Regions from separate parts of the Homo sapiens genome. Here all the other regions are linked to region 2. Evidence: fine-mapped expression QTL. A gene starts in region 2. Each other region holds a variant in brackets. All regions are shown on one strand. Distances are between the middles of the regions.

Evidence for each region.
Region 1: its variant is fine-mapped to the expression of PXK in whole blood (TOPMed, PIP 0.98).
Region 3: its variant is fine-mapped to the expression of PXK in whole blood (TOPMed, PIP above 0.99). The same link has a PIP of 0.9 or more in blood mononuclear cells.

Annotation. Positions count from the first base shown.
Region 1 is chr3:58,420,168-58,428,323 of GRCh38, reverse strand. PXK (PX domain containing serine/threonine kinase like) reads right to left here. Exons shown (of 18, transcript NM_017771.5): 18 at 2,197-3,572. The coding sequence ends at 3,364. It overlaps PDHB (pyruvate dehydrogenase E1 subunit beta), which reads left to right. Exons shown (of 10, transcript NM_000925.4): 10 at 145-694. The coding sequence ends at 290. Among named protein-coding and RNA genes, the nearest start is that of PDHB, 9.6 kb to the left of the region's middle. The variant A/G (reference allele first, on the strand shown) is at 4,988.
Region 2 is chr3:58,329,560-58,337,739 of GRCh38, reverse strand. PXK (PX domain containing serine/threonine kinase like) reads right to left here and starts at 4,848. Exons shown (of 18, transcript NM_017771.5): 1 at 4,650-4,848. The coding sequence starts at 4,751. RefSeq lists silencers at 4,004-4,298, 4,545-5,074.
Region 3 is chr3:58,390,627-58,398,806 of GRCh38, reverse strand. PXK (PX domain containing serine/threonine kinase like) reads right to left here. Exons shown (of 18, transcript NM_017771.5): 5 at 8,148-8,180; 6 at 7,587-7,660; 7 at 6,960-7,034; 8 at 3,705-3,809; 9 at 3,048-3,149; 10 at 1,607-1,768; 11 at 1,085-1,202. Among named protein-coding and RNA genes, the nearest start is that of PDHB, 39 kb to the left of the region's middle. RefSeq lists an enhancer at 802-1,301. The variant T/A (reference allele first, on the strand shown) is at 4,069.

The sequences.
Region 1 (8,156 bases), 91 kb before region 2:
TATTTTTAAAAGCAAATCCAGAAAGCGGTTCCCCATAATTAGCATTCCTTACATTTTCTCTTCCTGGTCAGCCACACCTCTGTGCCAAGGTGGTAGTGCCCAGCTGGCATTTGCACTCTCTCAGTTGAGCCTTCCTTCTCCTAGGTCCTGCGTTCAATTTCCTGGATGCTCCTGCTGTTCGTGTCACTGGTGCTGATGTCCCTATGCCTTATGCAAAGATTCTAGAGGACAACTCTATACCTCAGGTCAAAGACATCATATTTGCAATAAAGAAAACATTAAATATTTAGTTTGGACTTGAATATCAAGTCGTTGAAATTTATTTGAAATACTTGCTGGCACTGCACCTGGATTTGTACTGCAAGACCTGACTATTCATAACGGAAAACGATTTCTAAAGCAACAGCAGGTATTTTTGTACAGGGAAGTTTAAATGTGTTTGTGTATGGAAAACTCTCCACTCTCCTCCCCTAGATGCCATGCTTCCTTTTGTCTGTTACGGTTGCCATGTTCTTTGAATAACAAATTATATAACATTTTATCCTCTCTCACCACAAGGACAAAGTATGGATGTGGCAGAGTCCTCATGAAAGATGTATCCAAACAAGATAACTTATATGTATAAAATTAAAGCATATAATATACATTTACTGTTAGTTTGTTTTGATAAGGAATAAAGGAATTTCTAACATGACTAATTTTTTTTTTTTTGAGACAATGTTTGGCTCTGTTCCCCAAGCTGGAGTGTGATGGCACAATCTTGGCTCACTGCAGCCTCCACCTCCCAGGTTCAAGTGATTCTCCTGCCTCAGCCTCAGTAGGAAATTAGCCACCACATCCGGCTAATTTTGGTGTTTTTAGTAGAGGTGGGGTTTCACCATGTTGGCCAGGCTGGTCTTGAACACCTGACCTCAGGTGATCCACCTGCCTTGGCCCTCCCAAACTGCTGGGATTACAGGCATGAGCCACCACACCTGGCCATGACTATTGTATTTTTATATTGAAAGAATTGGCTGGGCTGGGCGTGGTGGCTCATGCCTGTAATCCCAGTACTTTGGGAGGCCAAGGCGGGCAGAACATGATGTCAGGAGATCAAGACCATCCTGGCTAACATGGTGAAACCCTGTCTACTAAAGCCGGGCATGGTGGCATGCGCCTGTAGACCCAGCTGCTCGGGAGGCTGAGGCAGGATAATTGCTTGAACCCAGGAGGCGGAGGTTGCAGTGAGCAGAGATGGCGCCACTGTACTCCAGCCTGGACAACAGAGCAAGACTCCGTCTCAAAAAAAAGAATTGGCTGGGTGTGGTGGCTCAGACATGTAATCCTAGCACTTTGGGAGGCCGAGGTGGGTGGATCCCTTGAGTGTAGGAGTTCAGGACCAGCCTGGGGAACATGGCAAAACCCCATCTCTACAAAGAAAAGATAGATAGAAAAAAAAAAAGTCAATGTGGGTAGAAAACTTGAAATTCTATTTATTAAGAAATTAGTGCTGCCAGGCCACAGTAGCTCATGCCTATAATCCCAGCACTTTGGGAGGCTGAGGCAGGGATTGCTTGAGCCCAGGAGTTTGAGACCAGCCTGGGGCAACGTTGCAAAAACCCTGCCTACAAAAACAAAACAAAAAAAACAAAACAAAAAACCCAGGTATCTGGTGGTGTGCCTATAGGAGGATTGCTTGAGCCCTGGGAGGTCAAGGCTGCAGTGAGCTGTGATTGGGTCACTGCACTCCAGCCTGAGTGAAAGAGCGAAACCCTGTCTTAAAAATAACAACAAAAGAAATTAGTTCCATGTGGAAAATAAGCTGATACTGTACAAGACCATTACCTGTTTGTATTCATATATCTGAACTATCCAGAATAGTCAGCAAAACTGACTTCAGAAGGACTCAGGCCTCACAAGCCTCCATCAGGTAATCACCTAGGTTGCATCACACTTGAAACAGGAACTTCTCCACAGACTCTCCAAATGCCTAATTCTAATAGCATTCTCTTTAAAATTATGGCAAAGTTTATATCAGTTGTTTTTCCCATTTCCAAAGATCAGATATTCTGTCAAATACTGCCCTCCAGAAGCTGAGATGGAAAAGATGGGTTTAAATTAGTTAGAGAAGCATATAGGTGGTACCTAATTTAAGTAGCAAGGCAGGATTTTTAGTTCTTAGAGGAAAAGTGAGACACAAAAGAATAAGAGACAGGATAGGTAGGAAGGAAACCTTAGACTGTGTGAATCTATTCTTTGCTAACAACAGACGCTACAAAAAGTTCTCATTTGAAATATCTTGTCAAGCTACAGACAACACGTTTTCTTGACATGATTTTAATAAAAAATACAGCTGACATAACAGATTACATGAAACTATACACAATGACATTCTCTGCATAGTAACCAACACTGATGTGTGTACTTGAATTTTTAAATGGATTATTTATAATCCTTTAAAGTGCAATTTATTGAAAGGTTTAAGCAAATCAGGATAAAGGATCTTTCTAATAAATGACTAACATTAAAGAGATGCTATATTGATATATTTAGATAAATCTTTCAAAAATCATAATTGATTTCTATAGATGCCAAATTTACTTCTGTTGTAACAATGACCTGCCCCCCTCAAACCCCAAACTTAATTGCTGAGGATTAAGAAGATCCTCTAATTGGCAAGAGCTTTTTCTGATGTTAATATTTTTGTCTGTTTCAATACATCTAACTAAAAAGAACTATGGGTCTAGAGTAGTTGCTTTAGCAGCCCTGAGTTCTATAACCACAATGGTATTCCTGTTAGAACTTAAGAGAATGTTGTGAACGTTCCCCATTCTATTTGAGGAGAAAACAAAGAACTCAGTTGCTTTCTGATTTAGCAAAGTAACTATGCTTTGGGCTATAGTGTTAATGTCTAAGATAAAGGTAGCAAAAATTGGAGTTATCTAAGAATCAGAAAATGCTTTAGAGAAATGAACTGTAAGAGGAATGTTTCTAGGAGCTGTCTGATGGGGTAGAAGGGATTGCAACACAAAGGCCATTTACTGCTGTGATTGAATATTGTCATTGTTTTTCTGTCTATTTCCTTTAGTTGGTGAAAATATTTCAATATGCTGCTGTCCCAAAAGCCTGGCCATTAGAGGATAAACAAGACTCCTTTACAGGGTTAATAAAGGAGCAAGATCTTAAGGGAGCAATGCCAGCCTAACTTTATTCTGCTTAAAGAATTATTTCTCTCGAAAAGCTGCTTACATGAGCATCTGCAAAATAGTACTGTTTGTGGCTGTACTGGCTCAGCAATTACTTTCCCAGGAAGAGGGTAGTTTGGGGGGTAGGGGTGAGTAGGAATAAAAAAGAACTTTTCCCTCCAAGTGTAAACAGGAAGCTTCAGCCGATCTTCGGAGCACTGTGATCACAGGTTTTGGCTTTCCTCAAAGTTCCTTTTTGGAAATTCTGGATGGAGCTGAGCAAGGCCCCTCGGCTCATGCCATTCACAGCCTGAGACGAGAGCTGGGCAGGTGCCTCGGTGCTCGCAGGAGGCAAGGGAGCTGCTGGTGGTGGTGGAGGTGGAGGAGGTGGAGGTAATGCAGATATCCCTGTGGAGGAAAAGGGGGACAATCAGTATTCACCTCCACAGCTGCCCTGCACACACGCTGCTGCTCAGTCCTGAGCACAACGGACTGGTGAGAGTCCACATGTTTTTCTCAGAGGGACCAACATACCTAGTACTGTATGAGTTCTTAAAATACTAAAGAAAGCTAGAAGCATCAAAGGGGAATTAAAAGTTGCCATGTTTCTCAAACAATAGTCATGTTAAAGGCTGTTGGAACAAATAATTACAGATTACATGAAACCACATATGGTGACATTCTCTGCATAGATGAGGCTCTGACCCCATTTGCAAAGTAATAGTCCCCAAAGAAGAGTTCCATCTATCAGTTACTTTAGCCAGGTCCCAGGAAGCTCTGTCTGCTTCTGAGCTAGCAATTAAAGATAGACATCTGCATGATGGAGTTGGGCTTCCTGAATGTCAGTTATTCATAAGGGGTGAACAGTTCTTTCGCTGCTCCAACATACACAATGTTTGAAGGATGTGATCTTATGTAAAATGACAGACCACTCAGGATTCTCAGCAAGGAATCAGTGCCTCCTGGGTTATGCATTTCCCAGAGGAGTCTGTCTCGAATAATAATTTCCTATTAGGTTGCATTAAAGAAATATAAAATGCTAATAACTGTTAGCAATGCAAAGCAGGGGGCAGAGGGGTCTCTCTGCCATGGTATTCTTACAGAGAAATCCTTCTCAAGTACTGTTCTCTCCATTGTGGCCCAACCAAGGAACAGGACATAACTGCACTAAATGTCTTTGACGAAGCATCAGGAGAAACTAGAATGTCGTGCTGTACCGCAGTGGGCAAGGAGAGGGAAACTGGGCAGGTGTCTAAAACTTCCCTCAGCTTCCAGGCACATGGACATTTGCAACTCGAATTTTATATTTTAGAATCAATGAATGGTTCTCTCAGGACAGAATAAACACCCGAGTTCAGAAAAAGCCTTGCCTTAAAGAATGTTCCTGTGCCACAGTTAGTTGCCTCGTCTCCTGTGACCTTGCAGCTCTCTGAGACTCTGTCAGATGCTGTCTCTGTCCCTCCCAGGGCTACTCCAGGGAGACATTCTGCCAGGTGGTTTCCCCTACACTGCTACTGAGTTGTGATAAGTAACAGGTAAAGCTACCCTACTTAAGTTTGTATGGACGACTGGCTCAGAATCACCAACACAATACTCAGGTAAGTACATCCTTTTCACCAAGTGTGACAGGTATGGGTTAAAGTCTTACAATAGAAAATCACTTACCTTTCTTTACATCTTTTACTCAAACCTAAGGCAGCTGAAATTAAAGAATCACACAAATACACACGCTCATGCTCTGCAATCTTGGAATGCTCAAAGATAGCAATACAAATAAAGACTAAATACAGACAAATGACCAACATGTTCATTGGTTCTACACA[A/G]TAACAACTGATGAATGAAATTGTTATGTTTTATGCTAAGGTGGATTGTGGGAAAATGTTCCTGGCTTTATGTCACCAGGTTACAGAGATAAAAAGGACTTTAAACCTGAAGTAACTGTTGAAGTGGGAAAACGGAGAATAAGCATGTGTGATGAGCATTCCTCTGAAGAGGACTTCTGGAGAGCAACCAGTGAAATACCAGGAGGAGGGGAGACCTCTGCTGAAGGTTTTTGGAACTGAGTCTCTTGACTGCAACACCAAGTGGGCCCGAAGGAGTGAGCTCTGCCCACTTGGGGGTAAGTAGGTGCCAGTGCCCTTCCCCAGCACCCTCCCACCCAATAGCCAGAAAAGGGCAGTGGAATCTGGACTTGATATTCAGGGCCACGTAGTGTAACAGAAGGAGCTCCAGGGTTTCTGCCTCCCAGGTTTGTGCTTTGACCCCCGGCAGAAGAATCACTGTGCAGTTAAGGACAGGCTCTCGGCTGCGGCGGTACTTGGGAGTTCTACTAAAGGCTCAGCACTGGCCATCTAGAGACTGACTAGCCCTCCAGGCAAGGATTTTGGGGGGCTGGAGACGGGCCTCAGGGCTGGGCTGAGGGGTAGGGGCTGCCATCTTGGCACAGAACAAAACTGCTTGGCCTCACAGAGAACCAACCCTTGGTTTTGGCGTCATTACCAGGCCCTCAAAATTAGAAGTGCAAATGCACCACCGCAGAGTTTGGGAGTTGAGGGTGGGGTTCAGTACATGGATTTTCCACTGTCCAAGTAAATGGACATGGATTTTCCACTGTCACTTTAAATGAGTCTCTTTGAAAATGTAGGTGGTGTCAATAAATACACTGTCCAAAGGGCTCCAGGGCTCCAGTAAAGCAGATGGAACGAAAGGACAGGCAGCAGGATCTCCCTGATGTGGCCTCAGCAGGCTGGAGCAGTCCGGTGGGGCTTGATGTCCCAGCAAGTCCACTTTTCCTCACTGGGCCTACAACAACCATGGTGGCTCTTATGTACAACCAGGGCAAGGAAGGCCAGACCCAGCTTGCCAGTTTGGAACACTCTGGAGGGGAGAGGAGGTCTAGGGGTCAGAAGGTGGAAACTGGAGGAGGCAGGAACACAGACCTGGGACTCGGTCTCACTCAGTCTGCCCCATTGATTGTTTTTGGCTTTTCCTTTTGGCCCTTTCCATGGTCCACAAGCTTCCTGAAAGGTCCGTTGGGGCTTCAGCTACAACACATGGCTAACAATGGAGGAAGAGGGGGCAGGGGCAACAAGGGCCAAATGAAAGTTACCATTTGGCCTGTGACAAACCTGGGAACAACTGCCTGCTGCCTGCGCGCTCTCCACCCCTCAGATGTGAATGAGGCCTTCCTGCCAAGAGACCTCCAATACCCTTATCTCCAGGCCACATATGAGAGCAGACCGATTCCATGTTAGACTTATGATACCTGAATTTGCACCCAGGAAGGGGGATGCTGCAAACAGCTTACCTTCAGTTACGACCAGGTCAGTCCCGATTTCTCCCATCTCACTTTCTCTTAGACAAAATCCCTGAGAGCCAACTACTTACTCTACCCACCCCAAAATCTTCTCCACCAAACCACACGGGAACCTGGCAGTCCAGCAGAGGCCCTGTCAGAGGGCAGAGAATGCTGCAGGGAGAGCGTAGGTCAGATCTAGGGAGGAATGCCAGGCCAGAAACCCCCTTGACAGCCTTGTGGACAGGATGTCTGAGGGTCCCTCCCTCCAGTTCCTTTTTTTCTGAGATGGAGTCTCGCTCTGTTGCCCAGGCTGGAGTGCAGTGGCGCGATCTCGGCTCACTGCAAGCTCCGCCTCCCGGGTTCAAGTGATTCTCTGCCTCAGCCTCCCGAGTAGCTGGGATTACAGGCGCGTGGTACCATGCCCACCTAATTTTTGTATTTTTAGTACAGATGGGGTTTCACCATGTTGGCCAGGTTGGTCTTGAACTCCTGATCCTTGTGATCCGCCCGCCTCAGCCTCCCAAAGTGCTGAGATTATAGATGTGAGCCACTGCGCCTGGCTCCCTTCCCCACCGACTCTTAGGCCCATGTTAGCAGCCAGCAGTGGGTAATCTACAGTCTCTCTAATTCTGAGCTCCTTTGTGGTCACATACAGGAAGGGAGGCCAAGTGGCCATGAGACCACACTAGGGTAACACCAGACTTACCAGCCACCCTCAGGAGAGAACCGAAGCAGGCAAGCCCCCAGCTCTCGGGAGAACCACCTTCTCCTTTGGCTTCAGGCAGGTGAGGAGGCTGTACTCCTGTCACAGCTCGAGAATTATAAAGGATGCTTACAAAAGAACTGTTTTTCCCTACCGTCAGTTATAAAAGCCAGTAAGTTGTCTCCCTGTAACTAAGAGCTCAAGTGCCTAACACTCTTTCCTCTTCATCAGAGTAACTAGGAATCAACATTTTTGCAGCAACGGGACTTTGAGAGTTATGGTTTCCAAAATTAAAATATACCAAAATGCCATGCAGTTGATTTGCAGGTTTTAGAGCTGTATTTTAAAACTGAAATCAGAGTGAAAATGAAGATTTTGAAGGTCATGATGAAAATGAAATGAATATAGATGAAGTCACTGGGTGCTTTTTAAAGATGCTGTATTTCATTTAAATATTCAGATAAGGAAATAGTCTCAAATCTGCTTTCCCACTTGTTCATCACTTCAGCAATCGAGACACTTTGGGTCCTATTTCACACACAGAAACAGAGCATCTTTAAAGTCTGAGAAATCAGCATAGTTTACTTTACCGAAAATTCACGTTCAAAATGGTGCATGCTCTACTGAAAACAGCAAAGAGAGAGAGAGAAAGGGGGGACACAAGTCATTATTCAGATTTTAGTGTCATTTAATCAAATAGTAACAGACAGTAAAATATTAGTCTGAATCACAAGCTGATTATTCTCACTTCGAAACTAGGATATACTCAAATTAACCACAGCACTGGTTTGTAAACACGATTGTGAGCCTTTTAAAACATGGCAAACGTATTTATAGAATAACCAATGAGTCGCTTTTTGAGCCACCTAATGAGTCACTTTCTTCATGTTCTTTGTCCTCTGAGCCAGTTAGATACTATTTTTATTTATTTACAAGCATGACGCTCACTTCAGAAAAGCCATGAAGGTTTTACCTCTGAAGAGCAGAATGG
Region 2 (8,180 bases):
CCAGCATTTTGGGAGGCCGAGGCAGGAGGATCACTTGAACTCAGGAGTTTGAGACCAACCTGGACAACATAGCAAGACACCATCTCTACTAAAAATCAAAGAATTAGCCAGGTATGGTGGTGCATGCCTATAGTCCCAGCTACTCAGGAGGCTGAGGCAGGAGTATTCCTTGAGCCAGGAGACTGAGGTTGCCGTGAGCTGTGGTCCTGTACTCTAGCCTGGGTGACAGAGCAAGAACCTGTCTCACAATGAAAAAAAAAAGACCTTGGAATCCAACAGAACAAAAGCTCCATGGATGCAGGAGCTGTCTGGTTCACCATTCTATCTCTAGCATGTGCCTGGCACATAGTAGGCATTTAATACATTTTTGTTGAATGAATGAGTATAGCTGAATAAATAAGCCATGCAGGAATGCAGTTTCCAAATATCAAAAGTTCAAGGAGAGATCCATTTTCAGTAAAGATTTTAACATGTAATATTATCTTTTCCACTGATTTTAAAAAATGTTTTCTATTGTGCCTTAACTATCACTATAATTATCTGTTTCTCAAAAACAAAATGTCCAAATGGAAGATAAACAGTCCCTGATCCAGATGAACTCCACAGAAGAATATTTAAAAAGGAGAAAACTGCCAGGCATGGTGGCTCAAACCTGTAATCCCTGCGCCTTAGGAGCCCGAGGCAGGTGGATCACCTGAGGTCAGGTGTTCAAGACCAGCCTAGTCAACGTGGTGAAACCCCATCTCTACTAAAAATACAAAAATTAGCCAGGCATGGTGGTGCATACCTGTAATCCCAGCTACTTGGGAGGCTGAGGCAGAAGAATCGCTTGAACCTGGGAGGTGGAGGTTGCAGTGAGCTGAGATTGCGACCTGCACTCTAGTCTGGTGACAGAGCGAGACTCTGTCCCCCACCCCCCAAAAAAAGGAGAAAACTGAGATGAAAAGCTATCACACACAGCCTACCCACCAGCAAAAATTGGATGTGCACATTTGATAACAGCGCTTTCCAAAACTTTGTTTCCTCTGGTTTCTATTTCAGCTATGTAAGCATTTTTTTAGTCTACTAACTTTAAAAAGTTTTCCCTTTTATATAGCCAAGAACTTACCTTTCCCTTGTCCTCTCTTGGTCCTCCTAAATTTTCTCACAACTCACCTGTGTGGCTTTTCACCAGAATTCCTTTTGTCTGGAAAATCTTCCTTCTTCCTCCAAACCTAACCTGAAAGCATCCTCCCCCTAAATACTAGCCTTTCTGATTTTATAGAAGCTTCATTTCCTTGCAGCAGAGGGCTGGTCTAGCTCTTAATGCTAAATTCATTTTGCTCCATAAAAATGATGCATCAGCATCAGCAAAGCACAGAATCACCTACCAACACATGTCCTTTCTGCCAGTTGCTCATCCAAATATGCCTTTCTGGTGGTGACCTTGTGTTCCCTTCATCCTTCTGGTGACTCAGTTTTCCAAACCACAGAATTTTTCCCTACCAAGTTCACAAATCCTAAATCATTTCTGTTATAGGTGGTTTCCCAGCTGGGTGCAGTGGTTCACACCTATAATCCCAGCACTTTGGGAGGCTGAGGTGGGAGGATCACTTGAGGTCAGGAGTTCAAGACCAGCCTGGGCAACACAGCAAGAACCCCATTGGTATTAAAAAAAAAAAAAAAAAATATATATATATATATATATATATATATATATATGTTTCCCAAGGTTAAACAAACTTGATAAATGAAAGGAACTATGGACAGAAATGAGCTTGCTTGCAATAACGCCCTCTAATGTGTTTAACGCTTTGCACAAATGTTGTCAGGGAGTGAAGAGATGGAGGGAGGAAGGAATACATTTTACAAATACTTCATCAAGATGATTTCATTTGATCTTCCTAACAACCTTGGGAGGCAGGCAGGGCAGGCATTTATTACTCCCATTTACAGATGACAAAACTAAACTTCAAAAAGGTTTAAGTGACTTGCCCAGCCTATATCACATGACTAGCAAGTATCAGCTCAGACCTGTATTAAGGTCTTGCCTCTTCCAACCCCAAGTCTGTCTCTAACTCCGTATGTTTCTGTCTACAGCCAAGGAGTAACTTCCTAGAGATTCAGCATTTCAAAGCGAGAGTAGAGCTCTGACTTCTGGAACACCATCTCCCTTCAGCTACCAAGCTGGAAAGCCAACTTCAATCTCCCCAAGAAAAAACAGTGCCTTTCTCTTCTACATACCCCTCTTAACAACTACTTCTTTCCAAAATAATTTCCAACAGTTCCTGTTTTAAAAAAGACTTACTCATAAGACACTAACAGTCCAAAAAGTTTGCATCAGCGTAAGATTTTCTCAATAAACTTCAGGGCTGATGCAACATTTCTCAGTCAAACTTTACAGCTAAAATGACAAGAACACAGAACAGTCAAAAAATTACGCAAGACAATGCTACAGTTTTTTACTCTACCACATCTGCCTCTATGGGTCTCCTGTGAGTCACTGTCTTTTGTGGTCAGTCATCCCTACAAGAACTGCCATTTTCTACCCTAAATTATTTTATTTTTTAAAGAAAAGATCTGCAGGGCCAGGTGTGGTGGCTCACATCTGTATACCAGCACTTTGTGGGGCTGAGGCAGGAGAACGGCCTGAGCCCAGGCGTTCCAGACCAGCCTGGACAACATGGTGAGACGCTGTCTCCACACACACACACACACACACACACACACACACACACACACCAGCCTGGACAACATGGTGAGACGCTGTCTCTACACACACACACACACACACACACACAGACACACACACACACACACACACACACACACCCTTACAATAAAAACAGAATCCTATTACATCTTTCGCCACCTAGCTAAAGCACTGATCTCTAAGTTATTTTTTCAATGTTTACAATTACCATTTTACATAAACAGAAAAAGAGGCATAGTAAGGTTGAAGTTGGATTATTTAGTCATTTGATAAACACATTTGAAATCCTATCAAAAACCAGGGAATGAGACTCAAAAGTGAGGAAGAAGTGCCCCTCCTCTTGTAGCCTGGTGGAGACAAAAAGTAAAGAAGTAATTACAGGACAAACTAATCAAGATTAAGGTGTGGGTAGGCACATGGGCTGGGGCTGTAGAAATCATGAATGCTTCCTAGGGAAAGTAATTTGTGAGTATTTAGAAACATCTATCTCTTTATTTTCAATACAAAATAAACCTAAAGGACTCGACACTATTCCCTGAAAGGTTATAAGACTTACTTGCCAATAGTCAAGTCAAAAATCAAATTTAATAGCTGAATTACTCTTGACTCCCTATCCTAAATTTCAACCCTTATGCCATACTCCCTTTAGGCACAAATGATAGCAAGTTTAACAAATTCTGTCCTGTATGTGCCTTCTCACATGTCTACAGAATAGGATTAAAGACACACAGCGTGAAATAAATAGCCCTTTTTAAAAAGATAATAATTTTCTTAACTGGAAGTGAATGCTTTGAACAATTCAAGCCCTACAAAGCACGGCTGTCAGAAGAGGAAACTGAGGTTCAAAAAAGTCTCACTTTAATACAACAGAATAAAAGGTCTCTTTGAAGTCATCAGAAGAGCTTGAACGAAAAGAGAAACAGAAGGCTATTGTGAGCTTTAGCCTCCAGATGATGACCCCCCAAACACACTGCAATGGTAAACAAACAAGCCTCTGAGTCTGAATCTGATTCGGTGGACTGACAAAACATCACAATTGAAGGAATCTCTCTCCTCACTCATTACTTTTCCAAAAAAGTCCCACTAGCTGATAGCTCCAGGTTTCTTGCTGGTTCCTAGATTTATTGCTTGGAAATTATAATGCATAGTGGGCCTTTCAAAAAAAAAAAAAGGTACAAGCAAATGAAAACAACCACGGTTTTAAAGCCCCATAAAAGACCGTATATGTAGCAGAAATGAACCCTGCCAATGTTTACTATGAGGACCTATTACTCCTTTATGCTACTCGAGTGGATTTTAAACTCAAATGAATGCTACCACTGCCCACTAAAGAGCAAGTTAGAGAAGCACATTCATACACCTGCTTAACAGCGCCCCGACTGCCGCCCCCACCACTTCCCGGGACCAGGGCCAAGCGGCTGACCTGGAAACGGGGCTGCAGACCCCAGCCACTTACACTCTGCTGTCCCAACAAGTAGGCTCTGGAGTCACACTTCATTTGGCCCGGCACACCCTCATCCCCATCACCCAGACCCTCAGCTGCAAGGAGGAAATTACACGGCCTCAAAAAGGAAAAGGCTGGCGGCGGGCAGAAGTGGATGGTCCTGAGCGGTCTCGTTCCTGCTCCCCTAGTCCAAGGTGAGCCCGGGAATCCCGCAGCCCCCGCCCCCGCCCCCCAACTCGGAGTCGCTTTCCTGGTCGCCGCCGAGCTCCTTCCACCCCGCGGCGCCGGGAGCTGCGGTCCCCATCCTTGGCCCCTCCGGGCCTCAGCGTTCGCCTGGGCCCCAGGGGCCCTGACCCAGACCCAGCGGCGCGCCACAGCCTTCTCGGCCAGGGCCGCCCACCCTGTGGCCCGGTCTCCGTCCGACGACCCTGCCCGGCCCGCGCCAGGCAGCCCGCAGCCCCCTCGCGGCCCGGGGCCGCCCCACGCCGCCCGCCCGCCCGCTGGGCCGCGCACCGTGTGGGACTGCAGGCTCTGGCTCGCCTCGATGGCTGCTGTCAGCGGCACCGTGTCGTCCAGCAGCACCTTGCCGGCTGGCGGCTTCTCCATGAAGGCCATCCCGGGACGCCCGGCCGCCGCCGCCTAGGGACGCGAGGTAGGAACCCGAGGCGCCGACTCCCGCCGCCCGCCCGGTTCCACCGCCGCCGCTGTCAACACGCGCCGCCCCACGCGCCGCCGGGCCCGCGGGGTCCTAGCGCCGCCCTTCCCACGGCCGCCGCCCCGGAGTCCTAGCGCCGACCCAGCGCAGAACGTGTGGGGGCCGCCAGCACTGCCGCCCGCTGGCCCGCTCCTCCGCCTCGCGGCTGCCATGGGCCTGCGCTTCCCTGCTCCTCGCAGCCGCACCGCAGACCCGGTGCCCTTAGCTCCGGGCTTCGGACCAGGGAACACCACCCTAAGCCATCACTACCAGGATCCTCAGATCCAGAGACGCCTGGTCCTGAGCCCTGGGATCCAGGAATCTTCAGGGCGAGATTTCCAAACCAGGCCTCTCAGAACTGGGCTTTTCGGGGACCGTACCTCTTGAAACCCTCAGAACTGGATCTCTCTCATCCCCCAGGCCCAAGGACCCTAAAACTCAGAAAAAGGGCCTTTAGGATGGGACCCCCAGTCTGAGCCCTGCAAACCCAGAGACTTTCTGAAACAAGCCCTTCCTATTGAAACTTCACAGGGACTCTTGAACGTGGCTCCTCAGGCCTGAACACCTAAGAGCTGGACCCCATAATTGGAGGTCTTGGGCCCCAGAACCCTCAGACCCAAGCTCTAAGAACTGGAGACCCTATAAAATGGTCCAGAGACCCCTAGCCTCTACTCTTGGCCCCCACTGCGGGCTCAACCACATCCCTTAGACTTGGGAGTTTTTGATCCCACCATATGGACTAGAAGAACTTCAAACCAAGAGCCAAGCCAGAGAACCTTGGGATCAACTTCTCAGCCCTAAATCTGCCCACAGTCTGCCTGAACCCAAAGCCATAATCCTGGCACCACCTCATCCCCCCCATCTCCATATACACCTAGAAATTTCACCCACACTGCCCTCTCCTAGGGCAGCATTCCAGGATAGTGAAGAGTTAAATTTAGAATTGGAGGACCATCATCTCCATGGCTCTGGCATTTACCAGCTGTGTGATCTTCAATAAGTTACCCAACCTCTCTGAGTCCCAACTCCCCAATTTGCAAAGTGGAGATAATATTATTTGTATGAAAAGGTTAATACAAGGAATGCAGTAGACTGGGAAGGGGCTTGGCACATAGTAAAAACTCAAACGGTGGTCAGGCATGATCGCTCACGCTTGTAATCCCAGCACTTTGGGAAGCCAAGGTGGGTGGATCACCTGAGGTCAGGAATTTGAGACCAGCCTGGCCAACATGGCAAAACCCCCTCTACTAAAAATATAAAAATTAGCTGGGCATGGTGGCACGTGCCTGTAGACCCAGCTACTCTGGAGGCTGAGGCAGGAGAATTGCTTGAACCCGGGAGGGGGAGGTTGCAGTGAGCCAAGATCATACCACTACACTCCAGCCTGGGTGACAGAGTGAGACTCTGTCTCAAAAAACAAACAAAAAAACAGACAAACAAAAACACCTCAAACCGTGGTCAGGCATGATGGCTCACCTTTGTAATTCCAGCACTTTGGGAGGCTGAGGAGAGTGGATGGCTTGAGTCCAGGAGTTTAGCCTGGGCAATATGGTGAGACCCCGTCTCTACAAAAAAATTTTAAAAATACCTGGGCATGATGGCTCACACCTGTGGTCCCAACTACTCAGGAGGCTGAGGTGGGAGAGTTTTTTGAGCACAGGAGGTTGAAGCCGCAGTGAGCCATGATCATGCCACTTCACTCCAGCCTGGGTAACAGAGCAAGACCGTCTCCGGAAAAACAAAAAAAAAACAAAACAAAGTCAATATTAGTTTCCTCCTTCCCCTACAGTTGACAGAATGGAAGGTTCCTAACTCTTAAATTTGCCTCCACTAAATTTCTACACTTCAGATAAGGGAACAAAGTTCCTTGGTAATCCCACCACCACCACCAAAATTTGACATCACAGGAAAGGCCCACATCATACATAAAGGGTCCCTTCTCCAGATCTCAAGCTTATTGGGATTGGTGGGCAGCCCCGTTGAGTCAAGTAGCCATGAGATTGGTCCCAGGGGCCAAGATCTAATAGAGCGAGATGTGAAGAAGGAATCCTGGACCTTCATGATTCAGCCCTAAAATAATCAGAACTCTCCCTCCATTCCACTTTTGTGCCAGTGTGTTTAAAAGCAGCAGTCTATTAAAGCAAAACCATATGTCATTTAGGGAGGATTCAACTTTTTACTTTCATTTCTTTGTTTTAAGGCAAATAGATTATTTCTCTGCCAGAGTCACAGAAACCAAAATCCAGCTATAATCATTACTCCTATTGTGATGTGGACTGACCAAGACAAGGCTCTTTTCTCTTACTGCAGGTGGGAGTATAAATTGGCGCCACCTTTCTGGAGGGCATTCGTACATTCATTCAACAATTATTTGCTAAGTACCTACTATGTAATAGACCTAGTACTAGGAGCTAAAACAAATATGTATTAAGGGCTTTGAAAATGTTCTTATCCTATGACCAAGTAATTCTGCGTCTAGGAGGGTATCCTAAGAAAATAATCAGAGATCAGTAAAAAAAAAAAAATAGCATGCAAGGATAAATGACTAACAGTTGGGTTTTGGACAAATCTTGGTACAATCATGAATTTTTTGCAATGTTAAAAATCAGGCCAGGGTAAGTGGTGCATGCCTATAGTCCCAGGCACTCAGGAGGCTGAGGTGGGAGGATCACTTGAACCCGGAAGGTGGAGGCTGCAGTGAGCCAAGATTGCATCACCGCATTCCAGCCTGGGCAACAGAGCAAAACCCTGTCTCAACAAACAAACAAACAAATAAATAAATAAAAAGTCACATGATTAAAAAATATTTTATGATCTTGAGAAATGCTCTTGATATAATAGTAAATGAAAAAAGCAATTTAGCATCCGTATAATCCCAACATATCTACAGGACAAACACCAGAAGAAAATATATCAAAATATGGGCTGAGTACAGAGGCTCACACCTGTAATCCCAGCACTTTGAGAGGCCGAGGCGGGCACATCACTTGAGGTCAGAAGTCTGAGACCAGCCTGGACAACATGGTGAAAACCTGTCTCTACTTTTAGAGAAAAATTAGCCAGAACATGGTGGCACACACCTGTAATCCCAGCTACTCGGGAAGTTGAAGCAGGAGAATCATTTAAACCCAAGAGGTGGAGGTTGCAGTGAGCCGATATCGTATCACTGCACTCCAGCCTCAGTGACAGAGCGAGACTCCGTCTCAAAAATAAATAAATAAATATGAACGGTGGGCCTCTAAGAAGCAGGATCATGATGATTTCTTCTGTATGCTTTTCTGTATTTAACTTGTATGATTGGGGGAAAAATGTTAGACAACTGGAGTCCAGTGCTCTGACAACTGCTTCCA
Region 3 (8,180 bases), 61 kb before region 2:
TCAACACAATATAGTCCCAGGGCCTGTTCTCTTGAATTGCCTCTTTTGACACAATAACGCTTGGTGAAGGGTGGACTTGAGTATCTCCAAGGCACAGGGGTCCAAGAGCCACCCTGCCCTCCCCTCTCTCTGCTCCAGCTGTGGGTGCCAGCCTGGCTGTGGAGGGGATGAAAGGGTCCTGGATGAGTCTGTACCAGTTCCTGCATCCCTCCTTCCTAAAGGTGCTCTCACTTGTCCTCCAGCTCCCCTCAGCCCCCGCAGGTAATGCTGTAAGAGCTCCTGGATCCAATTTGTCTTGGTGTCTGCATTCCTGCCTGCCTGCCCTAGGTCTGGGCCTGCTAGGCTCTTATCTACTAGGCTTCTGGCCTATGGCATTCTTGTTTTGTTTTGTTTTCGTTTGAGGCAGAGTCTTACTGTGTCGCCCAGGCTGGAGTGCAGTGGCGCAATCTCGGCTCACTGCAACCTCCACCTCCCAAGAGGCGGGTTCAAGCAATTCTCGTGCCTCAGCCTCCCAAAAAGCTGGGATTACAGGCATGCACCTCCACGCCCAGCTAATTTTTGTAATTTTAGTACAGATGGGGTTTCATTATGTTGGCCAGGCTGGTCTCAAACTCCTGACCTCATGTGATCCACCCACCTCGGCCTTCCAAAGTGCTGGGATTACAGGTGTGAGCCACCATGCCTGGCCTCTCTTGTTTCTTACAAGTCTCACTTCAGTCTTGATCTGACGTCTGACACCTGCCTGGGTCCTCAAGACTGGCTTCAAGTTGCCTGGCTCTAGCTTCTGCATCACACTCATGCAGGCCATACTTCTCTTTACATCCTCCTGCTTCCAAAGCTCTAAAGCATTTTGCAAAAAGTTCCCAGAAATTTCAGATAGCCTGGCAAATGGACAAGCCACCTGAATTTTCACAGAAGTGTATTTAAGTAAACTACTCAAATTTGGTCTACTTTTAAATTTTGTAAGAATTTCTGGCTGTGGAGGACAGCAACTTCCTCTGGGTCTTTCCTGGACTCTGGAAAGGGGATGAGTGGCTCTGCACACTACTAGGGCCCAGAAGACCCTTCCCAACCCCATACTGACCCACAGCCATGGACGGGGCAGGAGGGAAGGAGTCCACAGGCACCGAGTCTGGCGGTCGTCCATAAGTCATTTCATACAGTAAGTGGCCAAAGCAGTGGACATCCACACTTTCCAATGTCTGTGGAAGAAAGAGTAGCAGCGTGTTCACCCTTCACTTTGGCTTTGTGGACCCTCGCGCTCCTGCCCCAAGGCTTCTCTGAGAAACAAAGCCCAGGGATAGCCCCGTTCCTAATTGGTAACGTAAATGCAACTCCAAAGCCTTCTGTAAAACCTCATGAGGTATCCCAAAGGTCTTGGTCCGACCCTCCACAGTTTTCCAATCAGTGAGTCCACCTCCCTCCTTACCCCACCCGCCATTTCAACTCAGCCTCCCAGAGATACAGCAACGCTGCAAGGGCTGACGGGCAAGGCCTGTCCCAACTATACCTTTCACTACTTGGTGCATATTTCCTACATGGGCAGATCATGGGGATAACTGACACCTAAAAATGAACCTGCTATTTCATTACTTTAGCAACTTACATTGATTTTCCTGAATTGTGAAAAATAAGATCGGTAGAAGGAAGGCAGGCCCAATAAGGAATTCTCAAGGTCCAGCAGCCGGCAAGTGTCCCCATCGAGCATCACATTGGAGGCGTGAAGATGCCCATAAGGGAATCCCTTGTCATGAAGAAACTTCAGTACCTATCAAAACATATGGGAAAGTTACATTTTCCCCAAACTCATTCAGATATAAGACAAGTTAAACTTTGTTTTTTAGTCAATATATTTTGAAACAAAACCAAACAGGTCACTGAGAAGATTCCTGAAGAAAAATGCCACCTCTACCCATTTGTTTGGAAAAGGAAGTGAAGCTGAATGCTTTCCAGTTTTGAGGCTGTGAGATGCAACATCAGTTCTTTCTTTCCTCAAAAGAATAGAGAAGCAGCCTGCATATGCTTGGAATTAATAACTCTGATGCCAAAAGGCTCTGCTTTAAGCACTTTCTGATTCCAATAGGCCAGCTCTCTTCAGGGCAAAGTCTTGATCCTCCTGCATAGATGAGTGAAGCTATCTTATCAGTGCTTCTGCCAGTAATTCAGAAAAAGGGGTTGAACTAGAAAACATCTCTAGTTCAGTCTCTCCTCCAAATATATTTAGCTGTTTATTAATAGGAACACACAACAGGATCCCAGAAAAAGCAGTAAATATTTCCGCTGCCATATAAATAATCAGTGGCTTACCCAGTAAGAGAGATGCTTAGATATAGCCCTGCAATGTCCTGGTGAACTAGAGCAGTGATAGGCAAGTGGGGTGCCCAGAGCAATTCACTAAGGACTAGAAGAAAATATTACAACTTCTCTTCATAGTTGTTGTTTTTTAAAAATGTTATTTTTTTAACTTATAATATACAAAATATATTACTAGTATGCTGTCTCCATCCAAACAAATATAATATATATACACACATACACATATATGTATGTGCATAGTACACGCATATAATTTATAGTTAAATAGACATAACATTGGGATATTAAATTGGTTATTACTGATAAGGTTGCATAATCCCAGAAGCTTGGAGAATCCTGATCTAGAGGGTGATGTCGGAAAGCCTTCTCACTGTTGGTTATACTTCTGTAAGGGAGCCATATGGCTATGCATATGACATAACAAAATCAAAAACCTTGGCATGGGGATAAAGAGCAACCAAAGATAATATAAAAGTTGGTATCCACACAGTAAAGTTCTTAAAACTCAGACACTAAATTGCAATAGCTAAAGCTTTAAGAATTTTGTAGACATAAGTGACTGTTGCCTTAGTCTCAAATATTTACTTTTTGAGGCAAAATATGACAATGCAATCAGTTTATAAGTAATCAGACAACTTAAGTAATTTTGGATATTACTTAAGAACTTTTCCAGGTGAATAATGCAATTTTGGATGAAATCTGAATGCAACTTAAACAAAAGTACCTCTTACCTCTAATATTTGCCGTCCATATGTTTTTATTTGCTGGAGTTCCAGGCCCTGAATCTTCTTAGGGTTGCAGTACTTCTTTAGAAATGGGTCTTTTGGTTTTGCCTTTGGAAAAGAACAAAGAACACGTAAGAAAGCAGCAGAGGGGCCAATATCTGCACACAGACTCCCTGACCAGGCAGGATTCTACAGAGGCTAGGGGCGCCAGAGATGGCCAGCTGCAAGATGTGAGTTTTTAAAATACGACAGTCTGCATTGTTGATAGAAAGAGGCTGACCCAGGTTCCATCCCTTCTCTAGCCCAGTGAAGATGTGCCTGGTCTTGCCCTTAGCAGACCCCAAAGTCTTGCATATTGTTCGAATTCTTCAGAACTGCTTTGTTAAGCGCAAAACACAAACTTAAAAACTGACCTAAGAGAACAGCTTGCCATGTAATGGACATAATTATTAAATGTTCAACCTTTCCTCACATGGGAAAAGGAATGCTCTTTAACCAAACTAAGTAGAGTTTTTATTGCATGAATAAAAATAAATTCCAAATAAAATCAAAACTAACATCAAATCCTCAGGGCCTAGCCTCTGGAGTCTTAGAGACTAAGTATCAATAACAGGTTCTAAAGGAACTTGAGAATTCCTTATGACCATGAACTTGCACAGGTACCTTGTAGATCAGATCCTTCAATGTTCCCTTTTCGTTAAACATCCTAATTAGCAACGCTGAGGATTCATTAGCTGTGGCAAAGGTAACCCGATAGATGTAAGGGTGCTGTCAAAACAAAAAAGAAATTCACATTGATTTGCGTCAGGATCTAGGTCCTTTTAAATACAGGATCTGGTTATGCAGAGTCAAGTAGCACTGTGGTGGTTTAATTGCATACGAATGTAGTGATATTCCCTGAACACATGGCATTTTCAAGTTATTCAGTTACCAGCTAGTTCCTCCTTCTTCAGATGGAGGAAGGGACATAAACTGTAGGAACAAAGGAAAACAGGAGACAGATAATGGATGTGGTAAACTCCACAAG[T/A]GAAGGGGTCCTCTTTGGTGTGTGCACTCTCATAGCTCAGGCAAAAGTGTGGTGGAAGAGATAAAATGTCTGAGTTTTGAGGATAATAGTGTTAATATCCTGTCTCTGTAAGTCAGTAAAGAATACAGCCAAATCTCAGAACAGCCAAATGGAGACCAGGATCAATGTGTCTTTGCTCACAGCTTTGCCTAACATTCCACACTGCTGTTTGGGTGCCAAGCCAAGAAGCATACTAGCCAGAAAACAGGCAAAAGTAGCATCTTCTGGAATCTCAGCCCTTTCCACAGTAGCTGGCATGAATCTTCCTACCCTTCTATAGAATTCTGCAACATAAAGATTCACAGTGTCCTCCTCAGATGGAGAAACTGACATTAAGCAACTGGGGTGGAGAAAAGACAAATTATTTAATGAGTGAAAGGAAAGTGCTGTTTTTCCCTGGAATTCTGGTTACGTGAAACAAACTGGGTCCAGACAGGTATTACAATGTTCACTAGCTCAAAGGAGTATCATGAAAATTTAAACCCATGGGAGCTGAGCTATGCAGGGATTTTGGAGGCTGGCATGCAGCAGGTTGGGGGGTGGAAAGGTGTACCCAGGAAAACAGAGTAATTGATCATGAAGTTCTCCTGATCATCACATCAAAATGGTTGCTGCTGACTTTTTAACAGCTTTGTTGAGATATAATTCACATGCCATTACTATTCACACATTTAAACTGTACAAGTCAATGATTTTCAGTATATTCAGTTATACAACCATCATACAATCTAATTATAGAACATTTTCATCACCCCAAAAAGAAACACAATGGGTAGAATAAAAATCCTTGAGTACATACTAATATAAATTTTTTTAAAAGGGAGAAGAGAAGCTCTTTAGAGTAGAATGCCAACTAATAAGTAAATACGGAAGGAATAATAGAGTTAGAAAATCACATTAAATGTTAAAATGCTAGTGGGCTTCATAAAGAACAGAATATGTAGTGTCACAATATCTCCTTACACATTGGTTATTAATTATAGGTATTTACCTTAAGAAATTAAGTATGGGTATAATGTTTAGCAAAAATTGTTCATTATGGCTTTTTTCTTTTTTAAAAAATAAGAGCAAAAAGCTGGAGGTGATCTAAATGTCAATAGAAGATTGAGTAAACTAAGGTATAGCCAATGATAATTCTATACAGCCCATAATAATGATGCTATATTTACTAACAACTAAAGATGCTCATGGTACACCATTAATGAAAAAAAAATCAGGTTTTAAAGCACTACATATATAATTTACTTTTTTATCATAAAAATTCTTAAAAAGTAACAACTGAATATTTTGGTTCATACTTCTGTTTGACTGGGATTACTGGTGAGTTTTCTTTTCTTTTCTTTCTTTTTTTTTGAGACGGAGTCTGCTCTGTTGCCCAGGCTGGAGTGCAGTGGCACGATCTCGGCTCACTGCAAGCTCCGCCTCCCGGGTTCACGCCATTCTCCTGCCTCAGCCTTCCTAGTAGCTGGGACCACAGGTGCCCACCACCACGTCCAGCTAATTTTTTCTATTTTTAGTAGAGACAGGGTTTCACCATGTTAGCCAGGATGGTTTCGATCTCCTGACCTTGTGATCCATCCGCCTCAGCCTCCCAAAGTGCTGGGATTACAGGCATGAGCCACCACACTCGGCTTATTTTCTTATTTTTGCTTATCTGCCTTCTGACTTTGCTACAATTAATATGCACCATTTTTATGTGCTTCTTTTTTTAAAGAAGCACTTCTATTAAAAGAAATTTAGGGCCGGGTGCGGTGGCTCACACCTGTCATCCCAGCACTTTGGGAAGTCGAGGCAGGCGGATCATGAGGTCAGGAGTTCAAGATCTGCCCGGCCAACATGGTGAAACCCCATCTCTACTAAAAATACAAAAATTAGCTGGGTGTGGTGGCATGCACCTGTAATCCCAGCTACTTGGGAGGCTGAGGCAGGAGAATCGCCTGAACCCAGGAGGTGGAGGTTGCAGTGAGCCGAGATCGCACCACTGCATTCCAGCCTGGGTGACAAAGAGAGACTCCACCTTGAAAAAAAAAAAAAAGAAATTTAGAACTAGGTCCTGACAGCCTATGTCACACAACCAATCAAGCTCTAAGACTAAAGCGTCTTTTTGGCCTCACATTGCACCTCATTAATAGCTTGGTTTGCAAGCTTGACAAGACACTATATGGCCAAAAATAAACTTGCCAAACCAAGTGCACAAGTCAGTGTAATTGTGTTCAGTTCGCTAGTGATTCATTCCAGGGAACTACATCTTCATGCAGACAAGATAAAGAATGTCAATGTTAACTCAATTTCCTGGCCAGATTAGTCTTTGCTGAAGACATTCTGCACATATTTTGAAATATATCAACGTGGTTCTTTGCACTGAAGGCCCTGGATTAGAGCTGTGTAGTCGTGTAAATAATATCATGTATTCCTAAAGGTCATCTGGTTAGCCTGTGAAGGTAGTAACTCAGACAGAAAAATGGCTATTTTGCCTTTTCTTCACCCAGCTTATCTAAATTCCTCATTAGTTCTGTTTTCTCAGGCTGGAAAGAGTATCTTTCAGTTCCACTGAGATAAATACCTTCACCAAGAACAACAGGCTGGGAGAAGTAGCTGCTTCCCTACTCTCATCTTTGTTTAAAATTCAAAGTCTGTATTTAAATTACTATGTTTCATGGGTTGTGCAGATGTCATGAATGCCATTTCAAATAGCCTATGATCTAAGAGATTAGCCCTACACAATTTCAGTCTGACCTGAAATCCACTGTATCTCCCCATTCTGTTTTCCAGCTTTTCTGTCCATGTTCACCCAGAAAAAATACTGTGACTCTATCATCAGCACTGAGAATAAAAGAAAGACGTATACTCACCAAACAAGAAGGCAGAAGTTTGATTAGACACTGAAAATCTTTATCTGACAAATACTTGTCTGGGCCAAGGTCAGCCTGAAAACATGGAAGGGAATATCAGGGTACTGTTTTGGTCACCAAAAGAAAAATTCCTTGTCTTTCCCTTTAATTTTATTATCCAAAATATGACTGGAAACCAAAGACGAAAACAACACTAAGTCTGGCTGCCTCAAGACCTTTCTGGAGAAGCAGTGTGTAAAAATACCAGACTTAACTGTAATCTTATCTAATTCCACTAACCAAATCTATCACTAAAACTCTCAAAGTCAAAGAGATAAAGTAATGCCCAAGTATTTTTTTTTTTGGGAAGTAAACTCCAAAACTATAAACCCTAAAGAGATTCCAGAGAGTTATTTTAAGCTGTTCTTGTTTCTTTTCAAATGTTTACTAGTTGACCAAATATAATTGCATTTATATAACCAAATACACAGGAAAATGACTCAAAATGACTTTTCTTTGACATGGACCAAGGAAGCCTTTACATCATCACTTAAGAGCACAGTACAATTTTGTAATTCTCTTGTCAAATCTGCTTTCATTAACCCATCTAAAGTCACTGAAGGAGACCAAAGCAAAAAGCTAGCTTACCCAGCTTAACACTAGCCGTTCCTTTGGCTGATTTTTAATCTTCATCAAGAAATATTTCTTCCTTATTCTCCAACCTGCCATAAAAGCAAAAATGTGCTTAGAGCTGCACAATTTTTGCAACAACTGATATGTTTCACTGACTAGGTAATCAAGAAAAATTAAGTTTGGCAATATTATTCGCAGCTACATAGGCACAAGTAAAAGAACCATTTGATAACGTTGGCATAGTAAAGGCTATACTTAAAAAGAAACAGTAAATGAAGAAATTATTCACGGAAAAGGCAGGAAAGTAGCACTTCAGTTTAGATGTAGTGAAAAAGATAGATGAAGAAGGAATGGTGTTTCTGAAAGTTATTACCATCCAAATGCTTTGATGGGGCTTTAACCAAGGTTCATTAAGTATTAAAAGTTACCAGCTGTATCCTCAAGCAGTTGATATGCAAAAAGAAAAAGAAGTCACCTGCATTTAAGCATGTTCCTGGGATACGTATCAGAAAGCATGACTAAGGATCCAGTTCTGTGATCTGTCTTTTTAACAGAATGAGCGTGCCAATGTCTCACCTATGTCTTTCAAAGGTTCCACCACCTCCCACT